Linked DNA regions of Homo sapiens. Changing the gene in region 1 together with any one later gene gives a genetic interaction. Each region holds a gene or a part of one and is shown on either strand. Other genes may lie near its edges.

Region 1 (3,810 bases):
TGCCAGGTGGGGGTGATGACTACAGAGGTGGGATTGGGAGCCAGAAGGCCTAAACCTGTATCTCAGCTGTCACCCCGGCTGGAGTGCATGCAGTGGCATGGTCATGGCTCACTGCAGCCTCTACTTGCTGCACTCAGATGATCCTCCCACCTTAGCCTCCTGAGTAGCTGGGATTATACGCGTGCACTTGTAGACAGGAGCTCTTGAAGGGGCCACAGCTGGATCCTGAGCCCCCATCTCTCTCTCTCCAGGACTGTGGAGGGGGAATTCACAGGAGTTGGGAAGAAGGGGCAGGCGTGCGTACAGCTGGCCCGGATCCTGCAGTACCTGGAGTGTCCACAGTAAGGGGGTCACTCCCCTAAGCATGAGGGAGGGGTGTGTCAAAGTGGAGACCAGGTAGGAGGCGGCTTCCCCTGGGAACATCCTGAGGTCAGCATTCTTTCCTAGGTACCTGAGGAAGGCGTTCTTCCCCAAGCACCAGGATCTACAGTTTGCAGGTAACGCTGTATGGGCCCGCCCCCCCATTTCCCCTGGATCATGCCACAGACACTGAGACCACCCAGTCCTACCCTGCGCTGTCCAGGTGGGAAAGCAGGCCTGGGAGAGCAAGACCTGTGTCTGATGCCAAGACGCAGGTCTGTGGCAGAGCCGGTACTCCGCTCCAGGGTCCCCACTGCACCCTGTGTGCCCTAGCACTTCCCAGACTCTTCCCGGCTCTGCCTCCACAGGGCTCCTGAACCCCCTGGACAGCCCCCACCACATGCGTCAGGATGAGGAATCCGAGTTCCGAGAGGGCATCGTGGTGGATCGGCCCACCCGGCCAGGCCACGGCTCCTTTGTCAACTGTGGCATGAAAAAGGTAGGAACAGAAAGATGGGCTAGGACACACCTCCAGGACACACCCTGGCAATGGAGGGCAAGCAGATGGATGTTGCGGAGAGCCCTGGACCTGCCCGAAATCCCTCACTGATGCAAATTTGGGCCAGAGAATTGTGCAAAATGGGGCTCAATAGATAAAGCCAGGAATGAATTTACTGTTGCTTAAAAAGCAAATCAACAGAAGACAGTCCTCATGCTCCAAACAAAACCCTGCAGAAACAAGTTGAAAGTCACTCTGGAGCTGCTCCCATGTGGCACAGAGCCAAGCTGGGATGAGGGCATTAATTTGCCGCCTCTTTATCCTCAAGCCTCCTCAAATCAGAGGCAGAAACCTTTACATGTATGGAGTCCCTTCCTGTCAGAAAGCACAACCCAAGCGCAGTGGCTCACGCCTGTAACCCCAGCACTTTGGGAGGCTGAGGCAGGCGGGTCATTTGAGGTCAGGAGTTTGAGACCAACCTGGCCAATATGGTGAAACCCTGTCTCTAATAAAAGTACAAAAATGATCCAGGTGTGGTGGCACGCATCTATAATCCCAGCTACTCGGGAGGCTAAGGCAGGAGATTCACTTGAACCCAGGAGACAGAGGTTGCAGTGAGCTGAGATCGTGCCACTGCACTCCAGCCTGGGTGAGAGAGCCAGACTCCATCTTAAAAAAGAAAAAAAAGAAAAAAAAGTTGCAGAGCTACCAAAATGTAGAAAACTGAGTTTCATCTACTTCTATCCTGTGCCATGAGCGCCCCAAAGGTGCATGTTTGGCCAGTGACCTGTGTTTTGCACAAATGATCTCTTGTGAGCAGGTTCAGCCGGTGCCAGGGGTGGAGGGTGGCAGGTTGACCTGGACCCCTTGGTCCCTTGCCAGCCCCGGGGCTCCCCTGGTGGCATCTGGAAGAGCCGTGGCCCCTGCTGATCTTGAGAGGAATGGCACCCATTTCTTCTGGCTTCTCCCCAGGAGGTGAAGATTGACAAGAACCTGGAGCCCGGGCTTCGGGTGACTGTGCGACTGAACCAGCAGCAGCACCCAGGTATCTGGAAGGTTCCCCAACCCCTGGGTTGGCCTGATGAGCTCCAGGGTTCAGCCACCTGCTTCCATTCCCTCACCCCATCTTTACAGACTCTGTTACCCCTCCAGACTGCAAGACCTACCATGGCAAAGTGGTATCATCGCAGGACCCTCGCACCAAAGCTGGTCTCTACTGGGGCTACACCGTCCGACTGGCTTCCTGCCTCAGTAAGGACAGACCTTACTTCTCTGAATATCCATCCATCCCTCTGGGAGGTGGCCGGGAGCCTTGCCTGACCCAAATATCAGACCAGGGTTTTTGTCCTGTCAACTTGCTGTGTGTCCTTGGGCAAGTCCTTCCCCTTCTCTGGGCCTTGTTCTCCCTGGATGCACTGCCTGGAATGCTGTTAAGGACTACTGAGCAAAAGTATCATTATTGATCAATAATGTTTCTGTAGGGTTGGGAATGGAGGCAAAAGGGCCAGAGAAGTCAGAGGCCCACTTCATGTTCTTGGTGCCTCTTCCTATCCAGTCTCTGCCCTGTTCCCCAGCCAAGCACAGGCTTGGTGTCTGCCCTGCTCAGTCCTTGACTTTCCAGGAACAGCTCTACCCACCCCTGCTCGGTACACACACACCCCTGCCTCAATGCACACACAGGCAGAGCTCTACCCACCCACCCCTACCTTAGTACACACACGCACACACACACACACACACACCACACAGCTCTTCCCACCCACCCCCGCCTCAGTACACACACACATAATACCCGGAGCTATGGCTTGTGGGGAGCAGGACCTGCACTGAGCTGGCCCCACCCCCAGGTGCTGTGTTTGCTGAGGCCCCCTTCCAAGATGGGTATGACCTGACCATCGGGACGTCAGAGCGCGGCTCAGATGTGGCCTCTGCCCAGCTTCCCAACTTCAGGTGTGTACCTCCTGGGGCTGCGGCCAGGGCAGGAGGAATGTGGCCAGGAACCTGCCTGGTGGGTGAAGCTGCACAGATGGGCCCCTGCTGTCTGGGGTGGGGAGGGACTGAGGTCTGGGCGCTGTGCTGGGTGGGGCCTCGGTGGCCGCTCAGGTGACCCCCTCTTACATGGGCCAGGCATGCTCTTGTGGTGTTCGGGGGCCTCCAGGGTCTGGAAGCTGGAGCGGATGCTGACCCCAACCTGGAGGTGGCTGAACCCAGTGTCCTCTTTGACCTGTACGTCAATACCTGTCCTGGCCAGGGTAGCCGTACCATCCGCACGGAGGTGAGCCCGCCTGCCTCCCCGACTGCCAGCCACTGGGGCCTTGGGATCTGTCCGAGGGGCGGGTGCTACTCTTGCCCTGTCACCCACCCTTGCCCGTGGCTGCCTTGTCTGGAGGTGGTCCTCTCATCCCCCTTGGCCTCTTGCCACAGCGACGAGACATGAGTGTAGCTGGGAGTCAACCATGGGTGCTAGTGCCCGTCCTGTGCTCCCAGACTGGGTGACCCAGGGGGCCCTGCCCACCCCTGCTCCGGGCCTCTGGTTCCTTAGCCGTGCGCTCAGTGATCTCCCAGGGCCCTGGTTCTGCCACTTCCTTGTGTGTGACCACGGTGGGCACAGCAGCTCTCCCCTTGGGGTCTCACTTGCATCTGTCCCACGGGGGAAGCCACGTGCAGCTGGAGCCTTCGTCCTGGCCTCATGGAACCTGTGTACCCACTTTTGGGGTCAGGCATAGGACGCTGTGCTACGGGAACTCTGCTGGGAAGGCTGGTACTCCCATCAGTCTCGCCGGGCCGACAGCCCTGTCTACCCATCCCTAAGGCCTTGCCCAAGCCGAGCACTCTGAGCCTGACAGCCATACCCCCCAGCAGGAACCCTGGCTGCCACCCTTCCAACCCCTGCACGAGGGGTGAAAACTTCTTGCCCCTCTTCTTGCCCTCCCCTGGCCCTGGGAGGTGGG
Region 2 (3,810 bases), on another chromosome or scaffold:
TTGGTAAGGCCTGGGGTAGATGGGGGTGAGCTTTCAACCTTCACAGGGTTACTGGGCCAGGCAGCACAGTAAAGTGAGAAGTTCCCTGGGCACCAGATCAGTTCATCCCTGACTTGTGCTGGTTTTCCCTTGAAAACATCTTTCCAACTGTGGACACCTTGGTCTCCCAGCCCCCAGCCTCTTATGCCAGTATCAGTATTACTCCAATAGTCTCCTACATGGTCTTACTGCTTTTATTCTGCACTGCCCTCCAACCCAGGCTGCAGCCAGCAATCTTATTAAATGCAAATCAGGCCATCTCTCCTTGCTGGCATGGCTTCTCACAGCCCCTAGAATAAAACCCAAATTCCTTATGGTGGTCCTCAAGGTCAGACAGAAGATCTGGCCCCTGTCTACCTAGGACTTCATCTTGTGTCACTTTCCCCATAATTTATTTGTTTTTTTAAAAAATAACATCTTGTAGAGACAGGGTTTCACTATGTTGCTCAGGCTGGGTTCAAACTTCTGGCCTCAAATGATCCTCCTGCCTTGGCCTCCCAGAGTGCTGCACTTACAGGTGCGAGCCACCGTGCCTGGTTTCTCCCTCTCATTTAAAGATCAAGGTTTTGGCCAGGCGTGGCGGCTCATGCCTGTAATCCCAGCACTTTGGGAGGCCAAGGCACATGGACCACTTGAGGTCAGGAGTTCGAGACTAGCCTGGCCAACATGGTGAAACCCTGTCTCCACAAAAAATACAAAAATTAGCCAGGCGTGGTGGCGTGCACCTGTAATCCCAGCTACTTGGGAGGCTGAGGCACGACAATCGCTTGAACCCGGGAGGTGGAAGTTGCAGCTAGCCAAGATCGCGCTACTGCACTCCAGCTTGGGTGACACAGTGAGACTGTCTTAAAAAAAGATCAATGTTCTTTAAAAGCACCAAACTCTCTTTGCCGCCTTCTCTGCACATGCCATTCCTTCTGCTTACGCCTACTCATCAACGTCAGGTTCCTGCCCTGCGTGGCCCTCTACATTTCCACTTCATAGCAGCCATCACCAATTAAATATCTGAGGGACGCTCCCTTGCCCCATGGCAGCAGGAACTCTGCCTGTCCTGCTCATCACTATATTCCCCAGGTCTGCCACTTAGTAGGTACACAATAAAAAGTAACCTGTGGAGACCTTTTCCAGGTCAAAGTTCACAAACCCAAGAGTCCTGCCCAACTCTAGCCAAGTGTCTAGGCCTGGCATTCACCAGTTGGCCCAGAACCCTCTCAGCAGCCGCAGCCCTAGCCAGACCACGACAGCCACACTGTTGCCTCTGGGCCCTGTTCTTGCCCCATTTCCTGTCTGGAATGCCCTGCCTCCTCCACATCCCTTCCCAGTGAAGCCCACTGTGCTTTGAGGCCCTACTCCAGGGCACCTCTCCCAGGAAGGCTTGTCTAGTCTCACAGGCAGGAGGGTGTCCCTCTCCTGCCCCCAGGGCTGATCTCACACTCAGAGTGCAGCAAGCAGCACCAGACTCCTCTCCCTGCCCCTCTCCGGCTGCAGCCTTTCCAGCTCCTGGTCACCCTACCACAGTTGCTGAACTCATCTGGGCCCACTGGTGTCTGAAGCCCCAGACAGGTTCCTGGAAGGGTTAGAGGCTGGGAGAGGGCAACTCCTAGGGATGGGTGGCAATTACCTCCACGTCTGTCTCATCACTGGAGCTGGAGGTGTCCTCGCTGGAGCTGTCGGCCTGGCCCGCTGACACCATCCCTGAGGATCGGACACGGAGGGGACTGAGGGACTCCCTTTCCAGCCTCACCTGCCCCTCCCCAGCACCTCCCCACAAACCAGCTGCTCATCAAAGCCAGGTGCTGAGCGCTCACCCCTCGTGTGCCTCACATGCACTGAGCTGTGAAGCCCCCTTCTGAGGTGGGTACCATCACCATCCCTATGTTCCCACACATCTCTGAGGCCCTGGGAAGGGCTGTGAGGGGACCCAACAAATATGCACCAGCACCTGACAGTCTACAGAACCTCCATCCACCATCATATCCACTGATGCAGGCCAGACAGATGTCTACTCTACATAGGAAACAGAGGCAAATCAGGCCTTTCAGTTTAGTCTCTGAGCTGCCAGTTGTCCCTGTAACTCACCAGGGAGTCATAAAGCAGAAAATGCTCCAACCACCAGGTGGGCTGTTCAGCCTGAGGCCAGGTCCCTGTAAGCTGACCCTCCCTCGTCTAGGTGATGAGAAAAGTCCTAAGATGCAGGAACCTGGCTGTCCTGGAGACAAACTTTTGATTCCAGAAATGTCCCAGAACTTAAAGCAATGCCTAGGCCTGCCTCACCAGCCCAAGTTCTGGGGACTAGGTTCCTAGAGGTGGGGACTTCTTACCAGGCTTGGCAGCAGCTCCAAAGGCCGGGACGCTGCCCTCCTCCTCAGTTTCTGAGACCAACGTAGTATTTGCTGAGGGCTCTGCTGACTTCCTGGGAGACTTCCCAGAAAGAAGGTTGGCCACCGTCTTCCCAGTGGCAGGGTGTGGCATGGAATTCCCAGTCTTGCCAGCTTTCTCTGTCTCTGCCTACAGAGAACAAGAGTGACAGACACATCTGGTATGGCATGGTGAACTAAGAGCACAGGCCACTTGCATCTGAACCCAATCTTACCACTTCTTAGCTGTGTGAGTTTGGGTAAACTACCCCTTCAATCTGTTTCCCAATCTTTAAAGTGAGGTTAAAAACAGCACCTCCTCTCACCAGAGGTGTTGAGAAAACAGAATCCCAGTTCTTGGGACATGGTAGTTATTTACTAAGTGGTAAGTAGCAGTTTGTTGTTGATCTTATCATTACTTCATAATTACTTTGAGACATTGTTGCTAATGCTCCAGGCAATCGCAGAGGCACAATTCTTTATACATGTATGTATCTAACTCTGCTTTCTGGATTATTAGAAAATGACACCTTGTTTTTTGAGCAGTTTCCAGTTTGGAAAATGCTTTTAGAGTTTCAGAACCACAGATGTCTTGATCACTACGGTGCCTCCACACCTAGCACAGTGCCTGGAACATAACAGGTATTAGTCAAGATCTGTTGAGTGAACGGGTGAACGCAGGCATGAAAGAGGAAAGAAATCGCCTACCCCAGGTGTAGAATGTGCCCAGTGGCCCACTGCAGCAGGCATCATCCTTATCTTTATAGAAAAGTAAACTGAGGCCCAGAGAGGTGAAGGGACTAAGATCCCACAACTGGTGACACAGGTTGAGCTCTGAATCCAGGTGGGGCAATTACTCACAACCCTATCCTTCTCTGACATGTAAGACTGTCCCCTACCAGGCACCTTAAATCCCATAGGCAATAGCTTGGAAGGCAGTCCCACTCACCTTGGCTTTTTCTTTCATGCTTGATGGCAAGTCCGCCCCCAGGACTGAGGAGTTGGTAGATGCTAGTCTTGGGGCTGCAAGAAACAAACATCTGCTAAAGGAGCCAGATGAGCTTTTCTCATCTATGAATGGCAAACAGGTTTCATCTCACCTAACAATTCTATTGGTATTGGCTGCCTGGTGCTGGCATGAGGATCTGAGGCTGAGCCCAGACTTGCAGGAATGAGCTCTGTGATGCATCAGCCAGGTCCACCAGGAGCAAGAGAGAAGAGGATGGTAACATGAAGCTATGTGTCTGCATCCTTGATGGATTCCCAACTCCCCCGCAGCATGAGACGTGGAGGCCCCTGGAGGGAAAAGGACTGGCCCACATTCTTGCTGCCTACTGGGCACTGCACACTGCAATGGGCACCATTCACACAGGCCACCACACTGTAGCCCTGAAAGCTGTTCGGCAAGAAGGGG

What was found.
Region 2: changes in SPOUT1 (region 1) and TCOF1 together harm fitness more than expected from each alone (negative genetic interaction), as found in Homo sapiens cells (one large-scale study listed by BioGRID).

The regions. Positions count from the first base shown.
Region 1 is NC_000009.12:128,823,071-128,826,880, reverse strand, and holds part of SPOUT1 (28S rRNA (uridine-N(3))-methyltransferase), read left to right. Parts: intron 1-251; coding exon 252-341; intron 342-447; coding exon 448-497; intron 498-728; coding exon 729-859; intron 860-1,831; coding exon 1,832-1,904; intron 1,905-2,011; coding exon 2,012-2,110; intron 2,111-2,706; coding exon 2,707-2,809; intron 2,810-2,986; coding exon 2,987-3,134; intron 3,135-3,810. Other genes in the region: KYAT1-SPOUT1 (uncharacterized protein LOC127739546), read left to right, coding at 252-341, 448-497, 729-859, 1,832-1,904, 2,012-2,110, 2,707-2,809, 2,987-3,134. UniProt on the Homo sapiens protein: S-adenosyl-L-methionine-dependent methyltransferase that specifically methylates the N3 position of a uridine in 28S rRNA. Required for association of the centrosomes with the poles of the bipolar mitotic spindle during metaphase.
Region 2 is NC_000005.10:150,367,453-150,371,262, reverse strand, and holds part of TCOF1 (treacle protein), read right to left. Parts: intron 3,420-3,810; coding exon 3,346-3,419; intron 2,548-3,345; coding exon 2,361-2,547; intron 1,735-2,360; coding exon 1,661-1,734; intron 1-1,660.